Homo sapiens: one gene and its partners. The protein of the gene in region 5 interacts with the protein of the main gene of each other region in a pairwise test. Each region holds a gene or a part of one and is shown on either strand. Other genes may lie near its edges.

Region 1 (4,300 bases), on a different chromosome or scaffold from region 5:
AATATATGCAAGCAGCTGAGATTCATCAAAATCACAGAAAAGAAGTTAAAGAGAACCAACCATCCACTGAGATTTTCAAATGCAGTTGTGACTTGTGCCTTCGGAATTCAAGGTACATGTATTTGGTTGCTCTTCCAACATCCCTTCTTGGTATGTGTGGTCAGTGTTTTGAAACAGACTTTGTAGAGAGAAGAGATACAACAATAAAAATTCTAGGAGAGTGTGAATTCAGCAGGCTTTCTCTAATACCTGCAAGCATTCAGCTCCAAAGACCATCTGGTGGCACTACGTTTGGCCGCCTTGGGCCCTGATCTCAAAGGCTCCAGATTTTAGAGGGGACTAGATAGTGACTCTCCATGACCCAGAGCCTATTCCTCACAGGCTTAGGTTAAAGTAAAATCTTCCAGTCCTATTGCATGCCACAGTGTCCATCTGGTTTTAATACCTGGAAGTCCAGAAATGCAAGTCCCCAGTGTCAAGGCTAAGGTCAGGAAAACCACTCTGGAAAATGAGTTGTAGTCCATCTCCCAAAGTATGCCAGAACCCTTCATTTAACTGCTTCGATTCACTCAATCATCAATTATTTCCTTAGTCTCTACTAGATGCCCGTGATAGAGTAGAGAAAAACAGACCAGATCTCTGCCCTCATGAGGCACTCGTGCAAGATGCTGAGCCCGCCACCCCCGGCAAGCAGGGCGGTCCAGTAGGCCGCATGTGTCTCAGCCCAGAGAGAAGCGTGGAGCACAGTGGTTAAGAGCACAGGCTTTGGAGTCAGGCAGATCAGGTTCCAGGGCCAGCTCTGTCACTTACTGATTGTGTGGCCTGGGACAAGTGACATAACCTCATTCCAGTTCCTTATCCTTTCTTGTAGTTGTTCTGACTGTTCAATTAGATGAGCTGATGTACGCAAAGCAGTGAACACTCTAGAGTGTCCTGCCCTTGGCAAGCCATCAGTTATTACTAATATCAGCTCTAGTACAAGATAAAAAACCACCTACACACAGTTTGCCAGTGCCACTGGGAGAATAACAAGAGTCAGCATGGTGCTTTCTTTAAAACCCCGTAAGTGAACATGCACAAAATCATCTTCAGCTTTGGTGAGAAGGAAGGACTCCTTCTATTTTAGATATTTTGACTACTCACAAAGGGCTGCGCATGATGGCCTTTGGAAATCCCTTTGTATGTCTGCATTAGAAGAAATGCTCAATACTAGGAGGAAAAAGACACTCAGTCACCCCAAAAAGACTCTATCTAAAGCACTACAGAGACACCCAAAAATGTGCGTGTGTTGGGGAGAAGAAAGTTGTGTGATGTTTTTCTAAACTACGTTTCTCCATTTTCCGGTCATACTGAAAGTCATTTGAAAGGGTTTGTATAATATTTTCTCTAAATCTGCAAATGCTGGGATCATTTACCTTTTCCTTTTATGGTGGTAATGGATTTAGAATCGCTCCAGTTTCCTATTCCACGACTAGTCACCGCAGCCACCTTTTCAAATCAGAGGGTGAATTAATATGAAATAAAGGCAATACACCATACACCATACAGTAAGAATACTGAATGAGCTAAAGGGGTGAGATTTTGGCAGTGAGGCTGGAAAAATTTTATACAGAGTGATCCAGAATATTCAGAGGCCCCAGCATCTGAAATAAGAGGGCAAAAAAGCCAAGGGAAGGAGCTTGGGTAAAGGGCATTATGACAGTCCTGAGATCAGAAAATTTCTATTGATCCACAAATATCAAGGTTCTTCTAAAGGGCAGGTGTATGGGGGGGTGTGTTCATAAATACACACATATACAAAAAGGGTACTGACAAAATTATCAGTGTGAGAGTCATGAATGTGCACACTTAATGGTCTCAGCAAACATGTTGTTCACAAAATCTATCTCTTTCTGCTAAAAATACTAAAAATATATTTCATAAGAACCTCATAAAATCAGTTTAGAAAGACTACTTATCATAGCTCTGCATCATCCTGCAGCTAAAGATAAGCAGGAAAGAGCTGACTGCAAAAGTATAGGAGCTGGAAAGCTAGCAGAATACCGGAGTTAAAAGCAGGGAAAGCGGCATTCCCATAAACGCCCGGTTATCTACAGAAACTCTGATGTCAAGCTCTTTGTGGTGTCCATTTAAGAGACTGAAAGAAACTCTGAGCTCCCCCGTCCCAGGGCAAGAAGTTGGGTATTTTGCAGATTACTAATATGCATCTCACAAAGGTGAGTAGAGAGTTCTCACAAAACAGCAGCAATTTCGCTCAGTTCTAAGACTGCATGGATGGCTGGAATGGATGACGACACTCACTCTGACGGTGTATAGAGTGTTGACCAATAAGTTCTTGATTTCTGTAAAGTTACTAGCAGCCCTCTGGGAGGCCCACATCTTGGAACCACTCCTGCTGTATTCTACCTAAAGGGAGAAGAAAAAAAATGTGAGTAAAGGGAACCAAAGGTCCAGGGCATCCTAATATCTTGCAAGGAGGCTGGAGGAGAGAAAAGATGGTGAGGAGCAAAATGTTCTGACGGATGGGTCATCACCTACAAAGCTAAACCAAATCAACCCCCTCGTCATACAGAATACCCAGAAATCTCCTAGCACCCCCAACACACATACAGCCAACTCATGGAAGGTACTTACAATGTACTCACGGATGAGGCCATGGGTGTGGATGGGAGGAGCCCAGTGGCCTACAATCACACCTTCTGCTTCCCTGGGGAGTGACAGCTGGAGATTTCGAGGGGCATCTGGCACTAGAAAAAGAGTCAACTCAAGGTTAAAACCCATCTGCATAGCAGCCAACCAGAGGAATTTTCCTGGGCTTAGAACAAGGACAAGAACGACTCCACAGCCGGCATTGAGACTATCCACTAGAAAGGCTGCTAGCTTGGTCGTCACATTGAAAAGACACTTTTCCTCTTCTTCCAAAAAGCAAGGTGTGCCGTCCACACATCACATCATGGCTCAGTTGAGTGTGTGGTAAATTTGTGGCTCATAAGGGCTGCAGGATAGAATCACTTGGGCAGGCTGAGTCACCACTGACCCTGAGACTTCCATGCTGAGATCTTAATTGTCAATGACAGCACCTGCTGCCTCTGCTTCTTGTACAACAAAAACTGTACTGTGGGCATGACTACCAAAAAATAAGACTAATTTTGTAACATCACAGAATTTCTATATCCAAATGAATTTGATCATCTTCAAAGCAGGCTCCTTAATGAGTTTAGCGCTAGCATATTCAGGATACTTTAGGCAATGAAAAAAGATGACATTCAAGCAGACAGTTGCTCATGTCAACTACTTTGAAGTAGGGAGGAGGCGAGGAACTCTCTTAGACACATAAATTTGGTAAATTTCTTAAAAACTTAGCCACAAAGCCAGGTGCAGTGGCTCACACCTGTAATCCCAACATTTTGGGAGGCTGAAGTAGGTGGATTGCTTGAGCTCAGTAGCTCAAGACCAGCCTAGGTAACACGGCAAAACCCTTTCTGTACAAAAATACAAAAAGCTAGCTGAGCATGGTGGCACACACCTATAGTCTCAGCTATGCGAGAGGCTGAGGCGGGAGGACCACCTGAGCCTGGGAAGACTGAGGTGGTGAGCAGTGATTGCGCCTCCACTGCACTCCAGTGTGGGTGTCAGAGTGAGACCTTGTCTCCAAAAAGAAAAAAACTTAGCCACAAAATTGCTGATATGCCTCATATTTTAATGACGATGACCTCCTCCTAAGTACCAAGTACTAGGAAATATCTAGAGGAGGAACGTAGAGGTAGAAACTAGACAAAAAATGCAAGAGGGCAATGGTGGAGAGAATCTTAAATTAACTTAAGGTACAAGAACAGTCTCTGATGCAGTAAGAAGAACAGATGTTTGACAACTCTGGCAAGACTATAAAGCTTAGCCACCATACTTCTGTACATGTGAGGCACACATATGTTCCCACATTCCTGAGAATACTCAGAAAGACCCTCACAAACCCCGACCTGAGGTCTTACCCATGCCATAAAAATTAACTGAAACACTTACATCCCTCTGGGGTCCTCAGGGTCACAAAGTCATTGGTGTTGTGTGCCTTGCTGAGACACTGAACCTGTACTTTAACCTGATACGTGGTATCTGGTTTCAAGACTTTTAATACAGTGTTTGTCTTATTGCTGTGGGTCTCCAGAGTCTTCCATATGCTCTCTCCAACCACCCTGGCCCAAAAAAAAATAAAGATATTGTCACACTGGAGCAGCATGGGGGGCTGAGATGTCTGACTCCGTTAATAGCATGGTGCATGCCACTAGAGAGTTTACAGAACATC
Region 2 (4,300 bases), on a different chromosome or scaffold from region 5:
CTTTTACTTCACCTCTCAATTCTTACAGTTAATTATGGACAATGAAAAGAATACTTTAATTATGGCTCCAAAATAAAGGCCTTAAAATTATTTTAAATTGTTTTAAAGAAATAACAAAATGATCGTAAGAATGAATGAGAATTACCTAATAAAATGGGAATTATCAGAACTACTGTCTTCCATTTTAGTTAGAAATACAAAACCATGCATAAAAACATTCAGTTTACATTTGAACATCTTAAAATCTGTTTAAATCTAGTGCTTAAGGCCACAATGGAAGGGAAAAAATGAAAAAGTAAATGTGCCTGTCCCATTCTGGACTCAGTGATAGTTGTGATCAACTAGCCAGCTGGTGTTCGAAACTATGTTCTCAAAAACTTGATTTTAAATGTATGTACGTTTAGAAATGAAGAGAATGCTGGAAGCTATTTAATTTTCCAGAAAACGTGGTTTTCTTAGATTTAAAACAAATGAACTACCGGCAAAAATAATCATTTAGGAAACTAAGTTATGTGACAAATGTAGCCACTTCATTTAATGAAGTACAGAAAAAGTCTTAATAATGTTAAAGAATTTATAAAAACAGAGCCTTAAAATATACTCATCCTACACCCTGAAGACTAATTACATAAAATCTTTTTTCAATAAATATTTTTCACATTCAATAAGCATTGCCCTTCAACAAATATTTATTGAGCCAATAAACTTCCACAAATTACTTTGTGGTGAGATCTTTTTATGCATATTAAATTGGTTTGTTTTTAATTCTATAACGATGAGATACTGAAAATCTATTTACATATCACTAAGCAATTCTATACCACCTATTCATTTGGTGACTTTCTGTGAATACATACCACAAACAGCAGATTTATTCATGAAAACTGGCATTCAAATCATACTTCAAATATAGTCAATTATTGCTATTTGTGACATTTATGTTCATAAAATCACCACAAACACTGAATTTGCGAATATATAATCACTGCTACCAGGGGAAGTATAGGGTTAGGTTCCTGCAAGCCCCTGGTCACAACGTTTTCATCAACTGATCAATACATAACACATATGTACACATACATACATGTACACAGACCATATACAGAGATATGGATAGATACAGATATGGCCTTTAATTTAAAATGGGATATATATATATATATATATATATACACACACATAATCAGACAGACAAGAAAAGATGCATATGATATATTATTAAGGGGAAAAAAGGGAAGTTATACAATACTATGTATATGATTCCTTCTGTAAAAAACAAGAAACAATTTGCTTATACTATATATGCATACACACTAAACAGCTAACAAGGAAGGAACTTTGGCAATTCCATTTTTTACAATGAGCATGTGTCAGTTTTATAAGCATACAGTAGATTCTCAAAAAATGTTTTCTTATTATGGCCACTTAAAAAATAAAATAATGTGATACAAAACTCACGTTGTTTGAAAATGACTCCTATAATCTTCGTGTATTCAGATAATTTCTGCTAAATATAATTAAAAACAAACACTTCATATTTCAAAGATAGAATTTCAGTAAACATTTTCAAAATGTTCTCAAAAATTCGCAAAAAATGTTCTCAACACTTGCCAGTCCCCCAAACTGAAATGTTCAATGATCTGTAACAGGGATTCACAAGCTTTTACTATACGGGTAAATATTTTGTGCTTTACAGGCACACATGGTCTCCGTTACACATTCTTTGTTTTTGTTTCTTTCCTTTTTTGTTAATAACTCTTTGGGAATATTTTTCAGATTTCTTAGCTCAGAACCACATAAAAACAGGCCACAGACTGGACTTAGCTTGCCAGCCGTAGTATGCCAACAAACCAGCATTTAGAAGTCTGATATTTTAAATATATTATACCAAAGGCATCAGAGGTCACAACAGTTGAGTTTTATTCTACGTTAAATAAATAAGGTAGCATTATAGCAATTAAAATTACAAGTTGATTAATATATTGAATTCTATATGCTAGACTACAAATCAAATGATGGAACAACACAGTAAAATAAATTTCAAGCACTTATATTATATAACCGTAATCATGAGTGTGCATGTGCATGTGCATGCCTGTAAAGCATGCACTTCTCCACTTGAAAAAAATCAGCTGAAATTTAACTAGCATACATCAAAGCTCAAGTCTCCTTTTATGATCATTAAAACCATTCACTCATTTAAATAATCAAAACTAGTCAGTGATTTGTTTTAGAGATCATCAACCCCTGAAAATTAAGAACTAATCAGAGACTTGTAGTGATTCATTTGGTTTTAATTTAATTTATGAGATATTATAAAATATTAATCAACCTTCTAAAATACTACTCTTTGGAAGTTTATATTCTTGAAACTTTTTAATATTTACTTTGTCAGTAACCATCACTATACTACCTTTTTTCCTGAAAGACAGCTTTTATATATTTGATTTTATCTAAATTTGAAAGATCTTCATTATTATCCAGCTGTTACTATCAAATGAAAATTTCATTATGAATAATAAACTGGGTCAAAGTAAAAGCCTAAAACGAAAATTCATCCTGCAAAAGTAACCAAATACTATCATACAATAATCTTACCTAGACTGGTGGGTTTTATCAGTTCATCCAGTAAATCATAAAATGGTAATTTTTGAAGTTTTATATCCGGATGGACTGGGTGAAGAGCTGATGTAAGATGTGGGAGTTCCAGTTCATGTTTAGGTCCCAGAAGAGAAACAGGGAGTAATGGCGATGATGCAGGGTGACCATCGTAAGTGAGTTGTGGAATGGTAGATGGAGACAAAGTTGCTGGCATAGGACTTGAATGTACGTTGGGGATGGACAAGTCTGCAGGCGTCATGATTTTCTGTGGGAACCGCCGCCTATAGAGTTCCTTAATTTTCATTTGCACAGCAGGACTACAGCCAGCCTTTAGCAAATGCAGGGCTTTTGTGAGAAGTTCGTGTTTGCGTCCGTGCTTGTTTCTCCCGGCGTAGCCCAACAGTACTTGGAGTTCAGAAACTCTAAGGCTCATAACCATTTGCTTAGAGAAAAAACAAAATGTAAAACATTAGTATTCCAATAATATAATTTACACTATTAAATGACACTTTATTATAACCCCCTTCTTATGGTTTACTTAAGCAAATAAAGGCCAGCTCACTTATAATCCTATTATTTCAAACTTCAAATTTAATCATTTAACGTTAAGTAACCAAAGAAATTTAAAATTAATATTCATAAATTCATTGACTTCTACCCTTGGTTATAAGAAATATAGGATAAAGTATACACCAGGGAAAACCACACCTCACTTTATTCCACTGTTTTGATGAAACTGTCAGGTATTTATCAAGCACTTACTGAGTCTCCAGGAGAATGTCGAGTGCTATGTAGATGGCAAAACGTAATGATGTGCTCTCAAGAATATTTTGTTTTCTTGGGGAAGAATTATAAGTATATATGAAACAACAAACAGTCCATCTCAAACACCAGATGTAGGCAGGATATCAATAGCTATTATCAAGTGTTACTTACATTCTGTACTAACTCTGGAATTTGTAGACTTAAGTTACACCTTTTTTGACCAATTATATATCAGATATTCTATTTGATATTTTCACATGGAATGTCATTATCTTTACAACTCCGCAAGGTATTATCCTGCCTGATTTATACATGAGGAGACAAGTTCAGAAAGGTTAGATAACTTATAAAGCCATAAAGCTACTAAGGAGTAGTCAGGATTCAAACCCAGATATGTCTGATTCTAAAGCCCATGCTCTTTCCACTAAACCATTAGGAAAAAGACAGAGCTGGACTCATATTACTGACTCTCACTTAACTTGCAAGGCCAAGCTAGAAGTCCAGCAACCCAATTCATATGCCATAATGCATGAGGCTGCAGTAATCTATTTAACTTTGTTTACCTATGTTCGCAAACTTATTTAGTCCCCCTTTCTCCTTTTTCCCCACCTACTAATAGGAAATGACCATCTATACCAATCCTCCCATTTTAAAGTGGTGGAAAATGGAATCCAAAGAGAAGAAATCACTTACCCAAGATCACACAGCTATTAGCAGAATCCTAAAAGATTGCATCACCACTGACAGGGAGTATTAGGATAAAAAGACACATGTAAGCTTACCATTTGCTCTCTATTTCTCCAACTAATTCCTTCACCTCATACCAAATACACAAAAGCTATGCTTATGCTGCCTTCCCTAACTCACCACCACTCACAATGATAACCCCAGCCAATTCTCTAAGGGTTCTTTGCAGGTGGCAAAACCATTAAGC
Region 3 (4,300 bases), on a different chromosome or scaffold from region 5:
CATTGCTAAGAGGCTAAAGATGCAAAGGAGGGAAAAAATTCAGATTAAAACTTCAGAAGAGGCCAGGTGTGGGGACTCACGCCTGTAATCTCAACACTTTGGGAGGCCGAGGCGGACAAATCACCTGGGGTCAGGGGTTAAACACCAGCCTGACCAACATGAAGAAACCCCGTCTCTACTAAAAATACAAAATTAACTGAGCGTGATAGCACATGCCTGTAATCCCAGCTACTTGGGAGGCTGAGGCAAGAGAATCGCTTGAACCCAGGAGGTGGAGGTTGCAGTGAGCCAAGATCGTGCCACTGCACTCCAGCCTGGGCAACAAAGCAAAACTCCGTCTCAAAAAAAAAAAAAAAACCAAAAACAAACAAACAAACTTCAGAAGACTCAAATGTGTATAGGAAGCAAAAACACACTTACATACTATTTTTTAAGCAAGTATATCCCATATTGTCAGGTAACTACACACTGTTACCCTACAAATTATAATTTACCCAAAGCAAATGCCTGGTTTTTAAGACCAGGGATAGAAAGTCACTATGGAGTAATTCATTTTCCACAAAATTTTGTACTACAGACCAAGTAATAACACAGCAGGTGAAAACCCACTGAATTTAGTGAAGGCACACGTCTTCATCAGTGCTTCTGTTTTTCTACTGATAAATCATATAGAGAAGAAAGGAGTCAAAACATTCATCATTCCCAACTCTCCCTCTCTCTTTCTCACACCTCACCAGATGCAACAGGACAATCTGCTACTTCTGCTAGCAAGAAGGAAGACAGGGCCGGGCATGGTGGCTCACGCCTGTAATCCCAGCACTTTGGGAGGCCGAGGCGGGTGGATCACGAGGTCAAGAGATCGAGACAATCCTGGCTAACACGGTGAAACCACATCTCCACTAAAAATACAAAAAATTAGCTGGGCATGGTGGCACACACCTGTAGTCCCAGCTACTCGGGAGGCTAAGGCAGGAGAATCGCTTGAACCCGGGAGGCAGAGGTTGCAGTGAGCTGAGATCACGCCACTGCACTCCAGCTTTGGTGACAAGAGCAAAACTCCATTTCTAAATAAATAAATAAATAAATAAAATGAAAAATATAACAAAACAAAATAAAGGCCAGGCTCAGTGGCACACACCTGTAATCCCAGCACTCTGGGAGGCAGACGCAGAAGGACTGCTTGAGGCCAGGAGTTCAACACCAACCTGGCCAACATAGCGAGACTCTGTCTCTAGGGAAAAAAAAAAAAATCAACTGTTATAGGAGCTTAAACATCTATAGCTGTAAGTATCTAGAGCACAAGTTTGAAAACGGGTTCCTGAGAAATATTCCATTCCAATCAGGTAATGAGAATGTGTAGCAGACATTCAATAAATGTCTGCTCACCTGAAGCTGCTAGGAGAGCTAAATCAGTATAAAACGAAGTTACAGAACTGTATCATTGCAATTTCTTTATATACTCAACATGCTCACGTAAGAAATCAGTTTTATGTAAAAAACTTACCTTAATGAATCTACCCACAATTTGAGATGTATATTTTGGTAGCTGTTGTACTTTGCCAAGTAATATCAAAGACACTAAAATATACTTTTTATATGATTCCAACATGATATGACTGACCGCCATGGCAGGAGTAGTTATAGCCTAGGCAAGAGAAGAATGCTTGCTGTAAAGAGAACATACCACAGTAGCAAACAACAATCAACCACATGTATCACATTAATTATAAGTCAATAATACTTTTTAAATGTCCCATTATTTTTATAACAGCCTTATTGAGATAGAATTCATTTTATTTTTATTTATGCATTTTTTAGAGACAGGGTCTCGCTCTGTCATCTAGGCTGGAGCGCAGTGATGTAATTATGGCTCACTGTACCCTCAAACTCCTTGGGTTCAAGCAATCTTCCTGCCTCAGCCTCCTGAGTACCTGGGACTATAGGAGTGGGCCACCATGCTTGACTAATTTTAAAATTTTTTGTAGAGGCCAGGCGCGGTGGCTTATGCCTGTAATCCCAGCACTTTGAGAGGCCGAGGTGGGTGGATCACGAGGTCAGGGGATCGAGACCAACCTGGCTAACACAGTGAAACCCCATCTCTACTAAAAATACAAAAAAATTAGCCGGGTGTGGTGGTGGGCGCCTGTAGTCCCAGCTACTTGGGAGGCTGAGGCAGGAGAAGGGTGTGAACCCAGGAGGCGGAGCTTGCAGTGAGCTGAGATTGCGCCACTGCACTCCAGCCTGGGCGACAAAGCGAGACTCCGTCTCAAAAAAAAAAATATTTTTTGTAGAAATGGAGTCTCACTATGTTGCTCAGGCTGACTCCTATGTTGCTCACTATGTTGTTCAGTCTTGTACTCCTGAGCTCAAGCAATGCTCCCACTTCAGCATCCCAAAGTGCTAGGATTACTGGCATGAGCCACCACGCCTGGCCACTTTCTTGTCTTTTTATTTTTGAGGACGAGTCTCTGTTACCCAGGCTGGAGTGCAGTGGCGCAATCCCGGCTCACTGCAACCTCCATCTCCTGGTTCAAGAGATTCTCCTGGCTGGGCGTGTTGGCTCATGCCTGTAATCCCAGCAATTTGGGAGGCCGAGGCGGGCGGATCACGAGGTCAGGAGATCAAGACCATCCTGGCTAACATGGTGAAACCCCATCTCTACTAAAAATACAAAAAATTAGCCAGGTGTGGTGGCAGGCACCTGTAGTTCCAGCTAGTCACGAGGCTGAGGCAGGAGAATGGTGTGAACCCGGGAGGCGGAGCTTGCGGTGAGCCGAGATCGTGCCACTGCACTCCAGCCTGGGCGACAGAGCAAGACTCCATTTCAAAAAAAAAAAAAAGAGATTCTCCTGCCTCAGTCTCCTGAGTAGCTGGGATTACAGGCGCCTGCTGCCAGGCCCAGCTAATTTTTGCATTTTTAGTAGAGACATTTTCACCATGTTGGCCAGGCTGGTCTTGAATTCCTGACCTCAGGCGATTTGCCTGCCTCGGCCTCCCAGTGTGCTGGGATTACAGGTGTGAGCCACCTCACCCAGCCTCTTGCCTTTTCTTTTTTTTTTTTTTTTTTTTGAGATGGAGTTTTGCTCTTGTTGCCCAAGCTGGAGTGCAATGGCACGATCTCGGCTCACTGCAACCTCCGCCTCTTGGGTTCAAGCAATTCTCCTGCTTCAGCCTCCTGAGTAGCTAGGATTACAGGCATGCACCACCATGCCCAGCTAAATTTTGTATTTTTAGTAGAGATGGGGTTTCTCCACGTTGGTCAGGCTGGTCTCGAACTCCCGACCTCAGGTGATCCGCCGGCCTCGGCCTCCCAAAGTGCTGGGATTACAGGCGTGAGCCACCGCACTCGGACGCCTCTTACCTTTTTAACACCCACTCATCCTGATATTTCAAGATCAAGTTTGCTCATGAGTTAACTATATTTGGCTACAGCAATGATAATGCATCCAGTGGCTACGAAGTGCATTTTTATAATTTTCCGAATGCGTAGTCTTAAAGAGAAGCCACCTTGAAGATTTAACCTGACTAGACACGTGCTTTAATGACACCATCTCTGCCTACTGGCACCTTATGGTGGCCCTCCTCAGGTCCCCTCAACAGGACACATCAACCACTCATTGTGGTATGGTTCAGAGCCACGGATGTGTGTACATGTATGCATGTGTATTATGTATTAGAATTCCAACTAAACCGAGCTCTCTGAAGGTTTTAAATATCCTTTATTACTTAATACATGCTATGAACTAAATAGGAACTTACGAACATCTAACTAATTTACCTTAAGTAAAGTGGTTTATTAATCAATATTGTGTATCTCTTTTTCAGAGTCTGAGTAAACCTCCAGAATATTCTACCAAATTGTGTACTATGTTTCATTACACAGACACAGAAAGGGTGGGAGGGACTTTTACTGTGTACTCCTTTCTACCCTTTAAATTTTGAATCAAGAGAATGTTTCACTGATTAAATAAAACTTAACAAAATACCACACATGGTTTTAGAATAAGACACAACCAAGATCACTCAGTTCAATCTCTTCCTTATATGCAAAGGAAGCTATAAAGGTCAAGAGATGTCATAACTTATTCCAAATCAGATAAGGTATAAGTGCAAGCCTAGATTAGAACCCCCAGACAAGTGCTCTTCTATGCACTGGCGCTGCTCCTCAACTTAGGGATCAGGTTACCACTATTTACATGATCACAGAGAAGTAGTCTCTGAAAGGACCAACACCTGAAACGGAGGCCCTGGGATCAGACCACTCTAGCCACAAACCTATGGGAGCACTTTTTTGATCACA
Region 4 (4,979 bases), on a different chromosome or scaffold from region 5:
ACACACCAAGAAAACTAGGACATCCATCTAGCCTGGGACCTGCACACCATGAGTCTCCCCTCAGCTTCAGCTCCCCTCAGCTTCAACCCCTGAGTTGTCTGAAAATGTAAGACTTAAATGAATCAATCTGGTCAAATCCTCTCATTTTTAATGAGCAAACTGAGGTTCAAAGAAACCAGGTGGCTCACCCACGCCCAGGCCCAGAAGCTTCCGTCTGCATCAGTGAGAATGCGCACACACTTCAGGACTGGCCGGAACCAGGGGCAAAATAAACTCAGGGCAGTGGGTGCTCTGGCTGAGCCAGGGACCGTATTTCAAAGCCCAAGCTCCATGACTTTGGGGCTGTGCCCCCTCGGGGACGAGCACCCAATTCAAATCAACCTGTTGACAAAACCAGTGGCAGTGATTGCATCAAACCAACACACAGGGACAAAATATTTTCACAGACACAATCGGATTTAATACAACCACCGTCCCAGGACCAACTACGCTGTAAGAATGAATAGGAACAAAGTCGGTCATCAACAGAAAGGTCCTTCTCAGAAGACACAATGGGCTCCTACTGTCTGGATCACGGTTTTACCTGGCGCTGTGCAGCAGAACTTTCAGCTGTGATGGGAACACTCCATATCTGCGCCACCCAATACGGCAGCCGCTAGCCCCATGTGGCTACTGAGCACCTGAAACATGGTGATGCTACTGAGGAACAGAATTTCCACTTTTATTTCATTTTAATTCATTAGATGTAAGCAGCCGCCTGTGGGCAGAGGGTCCTACGCTGGAGAGCACAGTCCTAACCCGCCATCTAAGCTAGAATGTCGCAAGCACAAAAAGAATCCGAGCAAGCAGCACGGGGTTGTGGGAAAAAATACCGGACAGGAAGCGAAGGCAGGATCTAATTATCATTGCCTTAGCCACCAGAAAGCCCCCACCACCCCTTTGAACCCCAGTTTCTCCATCAGCAGAGGGTGGGAAGGGGCTGACAAGGGACCAGGCCCTTCCGGCTCTGACCACCTGCAAGTTCATTAGGATCTCCTACACCTGGGCACTGGAAATCCAAGGAGGCCCGTGGGTTCCCTGCCATGGCAGGTGAATGGGGCACCTGTTAGTCCTGGCTACTTGCCCCAACCCCAGCACCAACCATGTCTCCCCCATCAGACTGAGAGCTCACTAAGGACAGGCACCAGATGGGGCCCTCTCGGCTTCCCCAGCCCCTAGCAAAGCATCTGGGCACAACAGGTGTTCAGGGCTTAAAAGTCAGCATTAACCACGAGCCTTTCCAGCGTGTGTCTGGACGTGGGCTAAGCGTTCTCACCCGCCATTTTGCTCATCCTCACAGCCACACATCAGCGGGCCGAGGTGGTCTCTTCTCCCTCCGCAGAGACCACAGCTCAATGGGATTCTATGATCTGCCCAGGGTCACTCTGCTGGTAAGCCGCAAAACTGCATTCAAACCCAGGACTTCCAACTCCGAAGCCAGGTTCTTAATGTGTAAGCACTGATGCCTGCTACAAATCCATCCCCAGTAGCAGATGGAAGGAAAGGAAAAGAAAATATGAACTGGGCTACCAGAAGTCCACTTGGAGGGGCCTCAGAGAAGTGACACAAACCTCAAAATCCCTAAGTGGCTGAGACTTCCAGCATTTTAAAGCCTCCAAGAAAGAAGGCTAGGTCCCCCTCCTTCTTGGGCCCTCACGGTTTTCCAAGGGCAACGGAGCACCCATAAGGCAGGGGAGAGGCTGGCCGTGGACCGGGAGACCTAGCTAGACCTGACCTCTGTCCCTCAGCAACTGTGTGACTCCGAACAATTTGTGCCTTCTCTGAGCCTCTGAAAAAAAGGTGTAAGAGTCCCTCACAGATTAACAGCGATAGAGCACTTGGCCCGCAGGACTTAATGAGTGGCCACAGAAGCCAACGACACGCTTAGCCATTCCTAAAGCATTTTAGGTCCCACCCCATGCGGCGACTGGCATGTGCTCAAGATAGCAGCCCATCGAACGCTCTGTTCTCCAACCAACACCCTCCACTGAGAGTCCCTACTCCAATCTTCCTCAGAAGAATGTCAGAGACCTGCCCTCAGGTGTCTGGAACTCCATACAGCTACAACAGCCAAGCCTACAGCTTTTCCTGAAACTGCCCGACTGCTGGTCCGGCGTGACCTTAGAGCCAGACACCTTCTAAACCACGCTGTGATTGCCTCAAATACAGTGGCAACAAGGAAATCCCAGGGCATGTTTACAGAACAGGAAAGCTGCTACCTCCTTTCCCTAAAAACCTCAGATGGGGTACTATACAATCTCCTACCTCAGGTCTGGAAACAGACCAGCCTAGCTTTAATTCCCAGGTCAGCCACTCACCAGCTGAGTGACCTTGGACCAGCCTCTTCCCCTCTCTGAGCCTCTGTGCCTAGACTGTAAAGTGGGAATGACCACCACTAGCTCACACAGCTGTTATTGTGAAAGTGACGTCAGCTAATGCTGGGAAATGTGAATGCCCCAGGTCCTGCCTCGGTGATGGAGGCAGCCCTGAAACAAGAGAATGTACAAGCAAGGCACTCCAGGCGGGGACTGGTCCCATCCCCCACCCGGAGCCCAGGCTGGAAAGGAGGGACGTTACGTTTCCACGCTGAAAGCCCTGACGCCCATGTTATCTCCCTTCCCAGGTGAACACCAGGACTTTGCACTCATCAAAGGTTGGGCAGGATTCAGGAACAGAGAGGTTGAGTGACCTGTCCAAGGTCACACAGCCAGCCAGGTAAAGGGAGAAGCAGGGATGGGTGGCGGCCCTGGGCCCATCCTCCTGCAGCGCCGGCCAAATAGGCTCCATCTCCACGGAAGGGGCCGCTCCCGAAGGTCTCTGACCTTGGTTTCCCCAGATGAGAACCAAGCCCCTTCCCACCCCCACCCCACCCCACCCCGCCCCGCAGGGATCCGAGCATCGGGAGAGCGGTGGGCACGGCAGGGGCGGAGGCCAAGGGCGACCACCCGGCCCAGCAGAAGCCCCGGGCGCGGGCGCGGCGTCTACGCGGCCGCGCTGCAGGGCTGGGGCATGGCGTGGCGGGCGCGGTCGGCGCGGGGCTCACCGGACTTGGGGTAGGTGACGATCCACACGTCGCTGGGCCGCACCGGGAAGTTGGCGATCTCCTCCATCTTCCCGCGGCAGAAGGGCGGCAGCCGCACGCCATGGAACTCGAAGTACTTGCTCTCGAACTCCCCCGGGGTGCTGGGGGTCTCGGCCTCGCTCTCCGCCATGCCGCCGCCGTCGCCGTCGCCGCCGCCGCCTCCCGGCTCGCAGCCCGCACGCGCCCGCGCCCGCGCCCGCGCCCGCGCCCCGCACACGCTCGCGCCCCACCGGCGCGCGGCGGCAGCTCCGCAGGCGTGACGTCATGGCGCCGCCGACGCGCGGCGGAGGCTCCGCGGGTATGACGTCATGGCGCCGCCCGGCACGCGGCCGCGGCGCTGCACGGGCGTGACGTCATGGCGCCGCGGAGCCGCGTCCTCCCCGCCCCGCCCCCGGCCGGGGTCACCCACCCGCTGCCGGGGCTGACAGAGACCCTGGCCCGCGGTCTGCAGCCTCCTCAGTCGTGCGTGCGTTCATTCCGCTCATAGCTTCTGTCACTCAGCAAGCGCTCAACACAGACGCATGAGATACCCTGGCTGGAAGGCCCTGAAAGGTAGTCGTCCATTCAACACGTGCTTAGCGCGCTGCTGATCTGTGCCAGGCACTGGGCCAGGGCCCCGACACGCGTCAGGGTAGAAGCAAGCAGAAGCCTGGCCCTGTTGGAGCTTACATTGGTAAATAACCAAGATAATTTCAGGTAAATATTAGGTCCTATTAAAAATATGCGTCTTCGCCAGGCGCGGTGGATCACGCCTGTAATCTCAGCACTTTGAGAGGTCGAGCACGGGCGGATCTCCTGAGGTCAAGAGTTCGAGACCAACCTGGGTAAATGGTGAAACCGCATCTCTACAAACATACAAAAAAAAAAATTAGCAGTGAGCTGTGAGCTTGCACCACTGCACTCCAGTCTGGGCAACAGGACGAGATCTTCTAACAACAACAAAAAAAAAGTATGGGCCACCTAGTCCAGCCAAAAAAACAAAGTGCTTTTTTTTTGCTTTTTTTTTTTTTTTTTTTTTTTTGAGATGGAGTCTCGCTGTGTCGCCCAGGCTGGAGTGCAGGGGCGCGATCTCAGCTCACTGCAAGCTCCACCTCCCGGGTTTACGCCATTCTCCTGGCTCAGCCTCCCGAGTAGCTGGGACTACAGGCACATGCCACCATGCCTGGCTAATTTTTTGTATTTTTTGTTTGTTTGTTTTAGTAGAGACGGGGTTTCATCGTGTTAGCCAGGATGGTCTCAATCTCCTGACCTCGTGATCTGCCCACCTTGGCCTCCCAAAGTGCTGGGATTACAGGTGTGAACCACCTCGCCCAGCCAAAAAGTGCTTCTTAATATCCCATGAGTAGGGGAGGGGAGTGTTGGATTGCAAATTCCAGGACCCCAGATCTATGGAGAAAAATTACAAAAATATACATTTAGTAAGGCACTTCTTGTGCAAACTATAATTTGAGAGCAACCGAGTTCTAGAGATCTCAGTGCAACCCCTTGCCAGTCATGCACTCAACAGACATATATGAAGCACCTACTAACATGCCTGGGGAAGCACAAAGATGAAAACAACACAGCCTGCTCTCATTCTCTGCAGCCGAGCATCATCAGCTGTGTAAAGGAAAAGAATGATTCCTACCTCTAAGTAGTGTAGCCAGGAAGATGGAAGGAGTTTACACCAACAAGAATCTGGAGCAGAGTGGCTGGACGGGACCTATTCCTACTCTCTCCTTCTTACTGTAGAGTGAGACACGTGCATTCTGACACCAAAGACATACACATGGGCTGAGAAGCGCAGGCCATGTGTACATAGCAGACAGAGAGAGGAAACAGCAATTAATCCTGACTTGGGAAGCTTGTAGATGTCTTT
Region 5 (4,300 bases):
AAGTAACTATTTTTACCCTAAGAACTAGCATAGATTATTTAATTCAAACATTTCAACTGATGCAAGATTTTCTCTTCCTAAATTTAAATATGGAAAAACATCAGACTTCACCATAAACATAAAAAATACAAAAGTAGCCCTAATAATAGTTCCTATTTACTGAGCAGTATGCATACACTAGCTCATTGAATCCTTACGATGCCACAAGACAAGTGATACTGGCTTTATTTTACAGTTAGAGAAACCAAATTTGGGAGATTCAGCATCTACCCAAGAATCAAAGCAAAGAACTACGGCAAAAATACCCAACCCCAGAGAACATTTTTAAAAACCATGTTTTAATAAACTAGAGCACTGTATTTCTTTTTAGAGTTGAATTTTATTTAGATCAAGATCCACAGTCACAGTGAATAGAGGGAATACACACACTTATACATTGTATTTGGAAATAGAAACTGGATTCCTTGAGGAAATATGATTTGGGACAATGTCCCTTAGAAGCAGCGAAGTCAAAATCAGTTTGTATTTATGTATTATAAAGACTATATTAGTAGTAGTAATTTTCTGAAAAAAGTTTCCAAACCAGGATGGCCATAGCAGCCACAAAAGGAAGCAAACAAGAACAAGTCCTGATGGAGCAATTTATGAAGACAGGCAGCATAGAGGGAGAAGAACCTGTCTGTCAACCCCACACACGCTTTCCCAGGTAATTGCTCACCTCTGCCCTGTCTGACCTCTGTTTCTAGAGCCCAGCTCAGACTTACTGTATGTCACCCCTCCACCACTATTCCCTGGCTTTGCTAATTTACCTGTTCCTGCCACAGATTTACCTAAAGAAAGAACTTGTTCAGTTTATATCTTTTCAACCCCCTCTGGCTTTGCCCTTCACATTGTGTCATCAATCCTTTAAGTCTGTTCTTTAGAGCCCTAGGGAATCATTTTTTATTGGAGCCAGGAAAGTGACACCACATAATATAAGATCTTTCAAGATGTCACAGCATATAATACAAGTTACTAAGTAATGAACAATTATCTACAAAGTCAGAACTTAGTTAATATCTTTGGATTATAGGTCTTGTTCACTACAAAAACAGATAAAAAAGCAGTCATTGTATACTGTAAGAGCCTGAAACTTGTAGAGTAAGCAGCAAAATGATACTTAACTTTAAAAAAAAGACAACAGTATTATATTTTGCAATTTTTAAATTTATTTATTATTTTTGAGACAGGGTCCCACTTTGTCACCCAGGCTGGGATGCAGTGATGCAATAATGGCTCACTGCAGTCTTAACCTCCCAGGCTCAGGTGCTTCTGTCACCTCAGCCTCCCACGTAGCTGGGACTACAGGTGTGCGTCACCATGCCTGGCTAATTTTTGTATTTTTCGTAGAGACAAGACCTCACCATGTTGCCCTGGCTGGTCTTGAATTTGTGGGCTCAAACAATCTGTCCGCCTCAACCTCCCAAAGTGCTGGGATTACAGGTGAGCCACTGTGCCCGGCCTGTAATTTTTTATGTTGCCTATTGATAGGCACCACTGCTGCTCTTTAAATGTCAATGAAATTATTTTGGAGAAACTTTCTTCACCTTTACTAGGTTTCTTCTTACGGTTTAAGCTCAGCTACCTCTTCTTTTCTGCCTAAAACTTTTCTCTTGATCAAATATCAGAATGGAATATGATTTAAAAGTTTCATTTTAGACGTCTCCTGAAAGCTGAGCATTTGTTATCTTAAAGCCTCTTACCAGTTTGGATAGATATGGATCTTCCAAAATTAATGAGCTCCTTAATATCGACACTGTTTATCAACATAAAGGATCAATTTAGGAAGATTATAAAAACTGAAGTTTCCGGAACAATAAATGGGAGAATTAATCGTAAGTACTTCCTGAGTTCTTCACAGGATTATAGAATTTTATATATGGAAGTAATTTTAAAAATAATCTGGTCTAGAGTTTCCTAAAGTTTGTTCCATAAAATTACAATCCCATGGCATTGTATAGAAAAACGGGAGTCCCAGTGATCCAGTATGTCTGGCTGTAAACCTCCCTTCCTCGCCATTCACACAGTGTACCTTAAAATACTACAAAGGCTACAAAAATCCTCCAATAAAGCCTATAATTTTGTTTAATCTACTAAAAATGTAACCCCCCCTTTCATCTGTAAACATGCCTCAGAACACTCAAGAGGCAGTGAGCTAGCCCTATCCACTCACCTGACAGCCACAATTTACACTAGTGTTTTTCACTTACTAAACAAAAAATGATTTTCCTGATATCTCATGCTTAAAATGCCATCTAATAATTACATCTTCACTAAAATTTAAAAAGTATGGTTCGTCAGTCATTCCAACACTATACGTATGTGTACCATTTTAACTTATTTGCTTTCTAGAAAACTTGGCCTTTCTGTAAACTTTCATGGCTTAAAGTACTTTACATAGACAAATTACTTTATAAAAGTTTAGTGCTTTTTACTATTGCTGAGATATATCCAGCACTGTCCCTACTTTTAGTATAAAAAACCAAAAGTGATGTTATTGTCTAGAGTCATCTACCAACCGCATTGGAACTGTAGCCTAGCTCTAAATATGAAGAATTAAAGTTGGATTTAAAATGAGTTATAAACTAATCCATACTAAAAAATTTCTACCTATTAGTAACCTGAAAACAAGTTTAGAATTTTTCAGTACTTTAAATTCACTGAAAATAAGAACAATCTCAGCACAAAAATATTTAGTAATGTCAAGATTAAGAGACTACAGCTGACCCTGAACAACACAGGTTTGAACTGCATGGGTTCACTTGTACATGGATTTTCTTCAGCCTCTGCCACCTCTGAGACAGCAAGGCCAACCCCTCCTCTTCCTCAGCCTATACAACATGAAAATGATAAGACTTGTACTATGATCCACTTAATGAAGAGTAAATATATTTTCATTATGATTTTAATAACATTTTCTTTTCTCTAGATTATGGTAAGAATACAGTCAGTATATAATACAGACAACATGCAAAATATGTGCTGACTATGTTATTTGTTAAGGCCTTCAGACAACTGCAGGCTATGAGTAAAGTTTTGGAGGAGTCAAAAGTTACACACAGATCTTCAACTGCATGAGCAATCAATGTCCCTAACGCCCATGGTGTTCAAGAGTCAACTGTATTATCTTACCACTGCTTTAATATTTTCAGTGGTCATTCACCAACGATAATACAAAAGCAGTTTTGAACCACATATAGACATCAGTCTTTTACTAATTTTGGCCAGGGTAAGACCTGGCAGTGGTACTCAGGAATCAGTTACTATTGAACCAGTTTAATTCCTCTCGGTTTTTCATTACAGAGACGCACAATTAGTACCTCTTTCAAAGAGCAGAGATATTTATTATTAAAATACCAATAAAAAAGAATTAGACAGCTTTGGTTAATTTAGAATAACTATAACTATATTATGGTTATTGCTATCCCAGTCTCTGTCATTATCCTATATATCCAAGATATTGGGTAAGTAAAGTGAAAAGTTCTTGTTTTCATATGCTGACAAGACATTCTAGTATTGCTATGTCCAAATACAAGCTTTATATAATACAGCATTGGTGGATGCTTGCAATTATTGAAACCTAAGTAGACTTTTGTCTGCTTTTTAAATAAGAGGTAGTAAGTAAAAAAAGAGATTCGGACACGAATAATTTTGAAGTATTTGGCTCAAATCCAGAACACTGTCAAGAAAATCTCAGCGAAAAACTATTCATGATTACTGATAAGTAACATCCCTATTATTATCAGATGTTGTTGAAAATGCTTAACTGAGTACTTAGTTCCTGCTTATTGTTAAAATACAATGTTATAGTACCTCATATTACAAATAACAGATTTTAATTTCACCCCGATAATGTCATCCAGATTTATAACTTTAAATACTACCCTTAGTAACTGATGAATCCCCAATTTGTGTTTCCAGCCCTAACCTATTCCCTATATTCCAGGTTCGTATCTACCTATCAGCATCATACCATGGATGTCTTAACAGGCATCTCAAACTTACTATGTCTAAAACAAAATTTGACTTTTCTTCCCCAAACTTGCCCTACCACAAATCTTCTCTATTTTCGGTAAAGGAACCTCAGAGATGCTCAAGCCAAAAAGCTGAAAATCACTCATAAATCCTTAGTCCCACATATCTACTAAATTCTAATCTCCACATAGCAACTATGGCAGTATTTTAAGATTGCTCATTCCATTCCCTACTGAAAACATTCCAACAGTTTTTATTATATTTAAGATTCAGCCCAGATTACTTA
Region 6 (4,300 bases), on a different chromosome or scaffold from region 5:
TGGGGTTGAGGGGTAGGGTATCCCCACTGGTTCCTCTCGAGAGAGAGGAGGCTGGGTTTGATAGAGACCTCATTGCTGTCTGTAGCTCCCACAGCCAAGAGCATTACTTCCGGTGCCATATTTCACCCGTAAGCTGAGAAGTGGTATTTGTTGAAGGCCTATTGTGGGCCGAGTCCTGGGCTTCAGTGCTTTCCAAAGAGGGAAGCAGCCTCAGCTCCTGTGTCCCTGGTGAGGCAATGAGGCTCAGAAAGATTAAGCAACTTGCCCAAGCTTGCCCGGGTGGAAGGGATCAAATCCAAAATGGCAGCCAATTCTGTCTGACTGTATCCAGCACACTTTCTGTCATCCCTAGGGCCAGGGCCAGCGCCAGGGCCAGGGCCAAAGTTTGGCTGCCCTGCGAATGTTCCCTGGGGCTCCACCAGTCCTGAAGTCAGCGTGGCAGGAGGCAGGTGCACTGTCTGTACCATCATGGGCCATAAAAAGGCTACATAGACAAAGCGCCCCTCCTCCCAGTCCCCACTGCTTGAGTGGCCAGAGGAAGGGCTGCCCACCTCCTTGTCGTGGATCCTGCCCCACCCAGTAGACTGTTCTTGCCCTGGCTGGTATCCCATTCTCCCTGGCTGCGAAAACCACATTCCACATTCATCCATTCTTCGAGTCCCTAAGTGAGTGCCAGGCACTGTGCAAATGAACGACCCACAGTCCCAGCCCTCTGGGGCCTCATGGGCATAGGGAGATGGGGGTGGAGTGACAGGGACAGACACGCAAACAGTTACAATGGGGTGCTGTGAACTGGCATGGCACAGATATGTACAGACTCCGTGGGGGCATGGGGGGAGCATCCAACAATATTCTGGGCAGGGAGGACTCCCAGAGGAGCGACACTTTGGCAGAGCATGGAAGGGCGATTAGGCGTGTGCTGAGGGCAGGCTGGCAGAGGGTGCTTCCGGGACCAGGGACAGCATATGCAAAAGCATGGTGGCCCGAGAGGGCCTTGAGTGAGCCGTGGAGGTTGCATGAGCTTCGTGGGTTGGGGGTGAGGCAAGGAGGTGGACTGGGGCCAGACTGGGGAGGAATTCGTATGCCCTGCTGGGGAATTTGGGCTTTGTTTAAAGGGCTGGGGACTTTTAAGATTTTTAAGCAGGGAGAGAGTGTGATCAGATTTGCTTATAAGAAGGTCACTGTGGCAGCGGTTGGGTGTGGGGGGTGGGGAACTGGACCCCTGTAGTCATGGTGAGGAATCCCAGAGGCCTGGGCCACATCGGTGGCTTTGGGAGGGAGATATGTTGGTGCCTTGGAGAGACATAAAGAAAGGGTAGTGAAGAATCCAGGGCAACACCCAGGTCCCCGGCTCTGGGTGCCCAGCAGACAGAGACAGGGAACTCTTGAGTGGGCAAGATGTGGCCCATAGGCCCTGGTGGCCTGCTGGCTGGGGCCAGCCTCTCAAACCCTCGGTCCTTCCTGCTGTCTGCTCAGCCACCCAGGGCCTCTGTGTTGAACTCACTTTTTGTCTGCGCCCCCTGGGCCTGGGTGGGAAACAGACAGGCTGGGAGAACGGCACCGTGGAGAAGGCAGGCTGAACGGGGACTGCGCGGGGATTCTGTTAAAACAAAAGGCACCGGCCGGTGAGGAGAAGCATTAATAGAGCCAAGGAGAAGCCGAAAGGCAGATGCAGGGGCAGGAGGCAGAGAACAGGCAGGCAGGGGGATGCAGCAAGGGGGTTAGGGCCACACGGAGGCGGGAGCGGAAAGGGCCAGGCTTCGGTGAGCAGCGCAGGGGGACAGTCTCCCTCCAGCTCTTCCCTCCCCTTCCACCCGCAGGGGAGAGAGTCAGGGAAGGAGGGAATGAGAGATGAGGACCAAAGGGTGAGGAGCCCAGATTTGCTGAGGGCCTACTGTGCACTTCGCTCATCTCAGGGAGCTCCCTTGAATGCCAAAAGGGTAACAGCAGCTCCCATCCAGCTGCCGGTGCCCTGTGGGAATGTGGGCCCAGCATACCCTAATCTTCCCATTTTTCACGTGGTGTTGGTATCTCCTGACCTTCTTTAGTTTTATTTATTTTATTTTATTATTCAAACAAAAAGATTTTAGAGATGGGGTCTTGCTATGTTGCTCAGGCAGAACTCTAATTCCTGGGCTCAAGCGATTCTCCTGCCTCAGCCTCTTGAGTAACCAGGATTGCAGACCTCCACCACCATACCTGGGTCTCCTGACCTTTTAGATGTTGGCAACGCATTCAAAGTTTTTAAAACACAGAGGTCACACAGACCCTGGTGTGGGCCCAGGGGCGCCATTGTGTGACCTCTGATATCTGTCTCCTCAATGAATCACACAACCACCCATGGGGGGCAGGCAATGACCATGCTCATTCTACAGATGACAAAACTGAGGCTGAGAGAGGCAAAGTTGCTTGTCTAAGATCCCACAGATGACGAATGGCAGAGCTGGGAATTTGAACTGGATTCAGTTTGGTTCTTGAGCCTGGGCTCTTTCTAGAACAATATGCCCTCCTTACCAGGATGGAAATTGACGGATGAAGAGAAAGGGGCAGCTGAGGAGTCTGGGAGACCAAGGCAGGTGTTCCAGACAGAGACAGTGACACAGAAGGAGGGGCAGAGTGACAGAGGAGAAGGGGCGGGCAGGTACTGGGACAGGGAAGCAGAGGTTGTCCCCAGAGTGACCTGGGTAGGAGATTGGCTTGGGTCCCCCCAGCTGGGCCTAAGCACAGCTACGCTGGGCCCTGCATCCCAGCCCCTGGGACCGGTGCCAGGTGGACAGTCTGACCTGGAAGCTGATGTAGGACAGCTGCACAGAGCCATTGACGGAGATGGTGTCCACACGGTGGAAGGGCACGCGGTGGAAGTACTGCACGAAGAGGCTCCCGTTCACCATCACCTGCCAGAGGAGAGCACGTATTTCGGGGGAGGTGCCCCAGGCCGGGATGGGGACCACCCCTGAGCTCCTGGTCCCTCCTTCTAAAAAATGAAGACCTGAGTCTGGTCTTCAGTGTGGGGCCAGTTACAGGGACGTGTGTGTGGCCCGAAGTGCATCAACCGGAGTCTCTACTGGGCTCCAGTCGGGCTTTCCATTCTTCTGGTTGTTTCCTTCCCCTTTCTTCTCACTCCTCGATTTCCAGCCTGGTTAGGAGGCCATATTGTTCCAGAAAGAGCCCATGCTCAGGAACCAAACTGAATTTCCTGGGGTTTCATTTATTTATTATTTTTCCTTCAACTTTTTTTTTTTTTTTTTGAGATAGAGTGTCACTCTGTCAGCCAGGCTGCAGTGCAGTGGTTCAAGCGATTCTCCTGCCTCAGCCTCCCGAGTAGCTGGGATTACAGGCATCCACCACCACACCAAGCTAATGTTTGTATTTTTAGTAGAGACGGGATTTCACCATGTTGGCCAGGCAGGTCTTGAACTCCTGACCTCAAGCCATCTGTCCTCCTCACCCTCCCAAAGTGCTTGGATTATAAGGGTGAGCCGCCGTGCCCAGCCCCTTCAACTTTTATTTTAAGTTCCAGGGTATGAGTATAGGATCTGCAGGTTTGTTAACTAGGTAAATGTGTGCCACAGTGTTTTGCTGCACAGATCAACCCTTCACCTTGGTATCAAGCCCAGCATCCATTAGCTAATCTTCCTGATGCTCTCCGTCCCCGACCAGGCCCCAGTGTGTGTTGTTTCCCCGCTTGTGTCCATGTGTTCTCATCGTTCAGCTCCTACTTATAAGTGAGAACTTGCGGTGTTTGGTTTTCTGCTCCTGCAACGGCTTCCAGCTCCATCCATGTTCCTGTAAAGGACATGATCTCATTCCTTTTTAGGACTGCAGGGGTATTATTTAAATATGCATAAAATGCTCACGGGGAGCAGAGGAGAGGTGACATCGGGTTGCATACTGAATGGATGGGAACATCCTTATCTCAGATAAGCATATTCAGACTGAGTTACCCACCGGCTTCTCAAGCCCAGAGACCTACTGTGCTTGCAAAGGTAATTTGCAATGTGCTTACAGAACTATAACCGTAATAGACTCTGGATAAGGGCTGGAACAATGTCGCTGAAAAATAAATGTTACCAGGGACCTGGAGAGGAGGTATGGTGATAGCAGAGGAATGGAATGAGCTTGGAATTCAAAGACACACAACACCTAACAGCAACGTGATGACTCCTCTAGTTCTTATTTTCAGAGTAAAAGAAGCAGGAGGTGCACCTGTAGATTCAGGTGAAGGTGCGTAAGGAGACTACACAGCCATGGGTAACACCCTTACAAGGAAATGGTCATGTTATCTGTATGGTGGTGTCAC
Region 7 (4,300 bases), on a different chromosome or scaffold from region 5:
GATGGAAAAAGATATTCCATGCAAACAGCAACCAAAAGAAAACAGGGGTGGCTAAGTTTATGTCAGACAAAATAGACTTTAAGTTAAAAGTTGTTTCTAAAGACAAAGAAAGTCATTATATAATGATAAATGGGTAAATTCAATAGGAAGACATAAAAATTGTGAACATATATACATCCAATATCAGAGCACCTAAATATATAAAGCAAATATTGACAAATCTAAAAGGAAAAATTGACAGCAACATAATAAAAAAAAGAAAGCTCAATACTCCACTTTTAATAATAGATAAATCATCCAGACAGAAAAATCAATAAACAGTGAACTTGAACAACACTATGGATCAAATGGACCCAAAAGACATATATGGAATTTGCCAACCAACAGCAGAAGACTACACATTCTTCTCAAGCACAGATGGAACTTTCTGAAGGATAACTCACGTTAGGTCACAAAAACAGACTTAACAAATTTAAGAAGATCAAAATCACACCAAGTATCTTTTCTGACCATAATGGTATAAAACTAGAAATCAATAACAGCTAGAAAATGGAAAAATTCGCCAGGCATGGTGGCTTACGTCTGTAATCCCAGCACTTTGGGAGGCCGAGGTGGGCGGATCACAAGGCCAAGAGATCGAAACTGTCCTGGCTAACATGGTGAAACCCCGTCTCTACTAAAAATACAAAAATTAGGTGAGTGTGGTGGCATGCACCTGTAGTCCCAGCTACTTGGGAGGCTGAGGCAGAAGAATCACTTGAACCTGGGAGGCGGAGATTGCAGTGAGCCGAGATTGCACCACTGCACTCCAGCCTGGGCGACAGAGCGAGACTCTGTCTCAATTAAAAAAAAAAAAAAGAAAACCAGAAAAGAAAATGAAAAAATTCACAAATACAACAACACCCTCTTGAACAATCATTGATCAAAGAGGGAATTAAAAAAGAAAATCTTAAAATTATTGAGACAGAAACAAAACATAACATACCAAAACTTATGGGAAAGCAAAAGCAGTACTAAGGGGAGTTTATAGCAATGAATGCCCAAGTGGAAATAAAAAGATCTCAAATAAGCATCCTAACTTCACACTTAAAGAAATTAGAAAAAGAATAACAAACTAAGCCCAAAATAAGCATATAAAGGCAATAATAAGACTAGAGTAGAAATAAATAAAATAGAGAATTAAAAAAAAAAAAAAGCAAAACTGGGACCGGGCGAGGTGGCTCATACCTGTAATCCCAGCACTTTGGGAGGCCGAGGCAGGCGGAGCACAAGGCCAAGAGATCGAGACCATCCTGGCCAACATGATGAAACCCCGTCTCTACTAAAAATATAAAAATTAGCTGGGCATGGTGGGGCAGGCCTGTAGTCCCAGCTACTCGGGAGGCTGAGACAGGAGAATTGCTTGAACCCGAGAGTGGAGGTTGCAGTGAGCCGAGATCGTGCCACTGCACTCCAGCCTGGCAACAGAGTGAGACTCCGTCTCAAAAAGAAAAAAAAAGAAAAACTAAGAGCTTATTTTTTTGAAAAGATAAAGTCGACAGCCCCTTACATAGACTAAAAAAAGAAAAAAGAAGATTTAAATAAATGAAAGAGGAGACATACAATGGATTTCTCAGAAATAAAAAAGATCATAAAGGACTATTATGAACATTATATGACAACAAATTGGATAACACAGAAGAAATGGATAAATACCTAGAAACAAGCAACTTACCAAGATTGAATCAAGAAGAGGCAGAAAGCCTAAACAGACCAATAATAAGGAGATTAACGAAGTAATCAAAAACCTCTCAACAAAGAAAAGCCCAGGACCAGATGACTTCACAGTGAATTCTATCAAACATTCAAAGACAAATTAATACCAATCTTTCTGAAATTCTTTCATAAAACAAGAGGGAATTCCACTTCCAAATTCATTTTATGAGACTAGCATCACTCTGATATCAAAATCAAACAAAGACACTGCTAGAAAACTACAGGCCAATATCACTAAAGAACATACATGCAAAAATCCTCAATAAATACTAGCAAGGCAAATTCAACAGCACATCAAAAAAATTACCTGTCGAGTACTCTGTTCACTTCATGGGTGAGGTGACAGGATCCATACTTCAAACCTTAGCATCACACAATATTCCCATGTAAACAAATCTGCACATGTACCGCTTATATTTAAAGTGAAAGTTGAAATATTTTTTAACAAAATTATACACCATGATTAACTGGGATTTATTTCTGGGATGCAAGGTTGGTTTAACATACGCAAATCAATCAATGTTATACACCACAGTAGCAGAATTAAAGACAAAAATAGATGCAGAAAAAGCATCTGACAAAGTTCAACATCCATTCAGTTTACTCTAAAAAAAATAAGTATAGAAGGAACATACTCCAACACAATAAAGGTCATTTGCAAAATTCCCACAGCTAACATCATAATGGGGGAAAACTGAAAGTTTTTTTTCAAAGATCCAGTACGACGCAAGGATGCCCACTCTCACCACTTCTATTCAAACATAGTTACAGGCTGGGCATTCTAAATCTGAAAATCCAAAACTCGAAATGCTCCAAAATTTGAAACTTTTTGAGCAACAACATGATGCTCAATGGAAATGCTCACTGAAGCATTTCAGATTTTGAATTTTCAAATTTAGGATACTCAACTGGTAGGTATTCTGAAAATATTCCAAACTACAAAAAAATCTGAAACATTTCTGATCCCAAATATTTCAGACAAGTAATACTCAACTAGTCTTGGAAGTCCTAGCCAATCAATTAGCCAAGAAAAGGAAATAAAAGGAGCGCAAATTGGAAAGGATGAAGTAAATGTCTCTGTTTGCAGATGACATGATCTTGTATGTAGAAAACCCTAAAAACTCCATTAAGAAACTGTTAGAACTAAAAAATGAATTCAGTAAAATTGCAGGATACAAAATCAACATACAAAAATCAGGAGCATTTCTTTACACCAACAATAGATATTCCAAAAGGAAACCAAGAGAATGATCCCATTTACAATAACACCAAAAAGAATAAAATACTTAGGAATAAATGACCAAGATAGAGAAAGGTCTATACACTAAAAAATATAAAACAGATTAAAAAAAAAAAACCTGAAGACAAAATAAATGAAAAATCCTGTGTCATGGATTTGAAGAATTGATATTGTTTTTTGTTTTATTTATTTATTTATTTTTATTATTATTATTATACTTTAAGTTTTAGGGTACATGTGCACAATGTGCAGGTTTGTTACATATGTATACATGTGCCATGCTGGTGTGCTGCACCCATTAACTCATCTTTAGCATTAGGTATATCTCCTAATGCTATCCCTCCCCCATCCCCCGACCCCACAACAGTCCCCAGAGTGTGATGTTCCCCTTCCTGTGTCCATGTGTTCTCATTGTTCAATTCCCATCTATGAGTGAGAACATGCGGTGTTTGGTTTTTTGTCCTTGCGATAGTTTACTGAGAATGATGATTTCCAATTTCATCCATGTCCCTACAAAGGACATGAACTCATCATTTTTTATGGCTGCATAGTATTTCATGGTGTATATGTGCCACATTTTCTTAATCCAGTCAATCATTGTTGGACATTTGGGTTGGTTCCAAGTCTTTGCTATTGTGAATAGTGCCGCAATAAACATGCGTGTGCATGTGTCTTTATAGCAGCATGATTTATAGTCCTTTGGGTATATACCCAGTAATGGGATGGCTGGGTCAAATGGTACTTCCAGTTCTAGATCCTTGAGGAATCGCCACACTGACTTCCACAATGGTTGAACTAGTTTACAGTCCCACCAACAGTGTAAAAGTGTTCCTATTTCTCCACATCCTCTCCAGCACCTGTTGTTTCCTGACTTTTTAATGATCGCCATTCTAACTGGTGTGAGATGGTATCTCATTGTGGTTTTGATTTGCATTTCTCTGATGGCCAGTGATGATGAGCATTTTTTCATGTGTCTTTTGGCTGCATAAATGTCTTCTTTTAAGAAGTGTCTGTTCATATCCTTTGCCCACTTTTTGATGGGGTTTTTTTTTCTTGTAAATTTGTTGGAGTTCATTGTAGATTCTGGATATTAGCCCTTTGTCAGATGAGCAGGTTGCGAAAATTTTCTCCCATTTTGTAGGTTGCCTGTTCACTCTGATGGTAGTTTCTTTTGCTGTGCAGAAGCTCTTTAGTTTCATTAGATCCCATTTGTCGATTTTGTCTTTTGTTGCCATTGCTTTTGGTGTTTTAGACATGAAGTCCTTGCCCATGCCTATGTCCTGAATGGTAATGCCTAGGTTTTCT

Evidence for each region.
Region 1: the proteins of NDUFV2 (region 5) and SORL1 interact in binary tests that used the Homo sapiens proteins (3 or more experiments, as listed by UniProt).
Region 2: the proteins of NDUFV2 (region 5) and PIAS1 interact in binary tests that used the Homo sapiens proteins (3 or more experiments, as listed by UniProt).
Region 3: the proteins of NDUFV2 (region 5) and COPS3 interact in binary tests that used the Homo sapiens proteins (3 or more experiments, as listed by UniProt).
Region 4: the proteins of NDUFV2 (region 5) and SULT4A1 interact in binary tests that used the Homo sapiens proteins (3 or more experiments, as listed by UniProt).
Region 6: the proteins of NDUFV2 (region 5) and LGALS9C interact in binary tests that used the Homo sapiens proteins (3 or more experiments, as listed by UniProt).
Region 7: the proteins of NDUFV2 (region 5) and SPATA22 interact in binary tests that used the Homo sapiens proteins (3 or more experiments, as listed by UniProt).

Annotation. Positions count from the first base shown.
Region 1 is NC_000011.10:121,605,292-121,609,591, reverse strand, and holds part of SORL1 (sortilin-related receptor preproprotein), read right to left. Parts: intron 4,191-4,300; coding exon 4,021-4,190; intron 2,748-4,020; coding exon 2,635-2,747; intron 2,407-2,634; coding exon 2,302-2,406; intron 1,489-2,301; coding exon 1,416-1,488; intron 1-1,415. UniProt on the Homo sapiens protein: Sorting receptor that directs several proteins to their correct location within the cell. Along with AP-1 complex, involved Golgi apparatus - endosome sorting.
Region 2 is NC_000015.10:68,085,049-68,089,348, reverse strand, and holds part of PIAS1 (E3 SUMO-protein ligase PIAS1), read right to left. Parts: intron 3,044-4,300; coding exon 2,599-3,043; intron 1,505-2,598; exon of another isoform or gene 1,459-1,504; intron 1-1,458. UniProt on the Homo sapiens protein: Functions as an E3-type small ubiquitin-like modifier (SUMO) ligase, stabilizing the interaction between UBE2I and the substrate, and as a SUMO-tethering factor. Catalyzes sumoylation of various proteins, such as CEBPB, MRE11, MTA1, PTK2 and PML.
Region 3 is NC_000017.11:17,260,462-17,264,761, forward strand, and holds part of COPS3 (COP9 signalosome complex subunit 3), read right to left. Parts: intron 1,646-4,300; coding exon 1,505-1,645; intron 14-1,504; coding exon 1-13. UniProt on the Homo sapiens protein: Component of the COP9 signalosome complex (CSN), a complex involved in various cellular and developmental processes.
Region 4 is NC_000022.11:43,859,132-43,864,110, forward strand, and holds the start of SULT4A1 (sulfotransferase 4A1), read right to left. Parts: upstream 3,383-4,979; 5' UTR 3,252-3,382; coding exon 3,083-3,251; intron 1-3,082. UniProt on the Homo sapiens protein: Atypical sulfotransferase family member with very low affinity for 3'-phospho-5'-adenylyl sulfate (PAPS) and very low catalytic activity towards L-triiodothyronine, thyroxine, estrone, p-nitrophenol, 2-naphthylamine, and 2-beta-naphthol.
Region 5 is NC_000018.10:9,129,797-9,134,096, reverse strand, and holds part of NDUFV2 (NADH dehydrogenase [ubiquinone] flavoprotein 2, mitochondrial precursor), read right to left. Parts: intron 1,875-4,300; exon of another isoform or gene 1,699-1,874; intron 707-1,698; exon of another isoform or gene 587-706; intron 1-586.
Region 6 is NC_000017.11:18,486,241-18,490,540, reverse strand, and holds part of LGALS9C (galectin-9C), read right to left. Parts: intron 3,642-4,300; exon of another isoform or gene 3,625-3,641; coding exon of another isoform or gene 3,601-3,624; intron 2,895-3,600; coding exon 2,784-2,894; intron 1,601-2,783; coding exon 1,505-1,600; intron 1-1,504. UniProt on the Homo sapiens protein: Binds galactosides.
Region 7 is NC_000017.11:3,451,107-3,455,406, forward strand, and holds part of SPATA22 (spermatogenesis-associated protein 22), read right to left. Parts: intron 1-4,300. UniProt on the Homo sapiens protein: Meiosis-specific protein required for homologous recombination in meiosis I.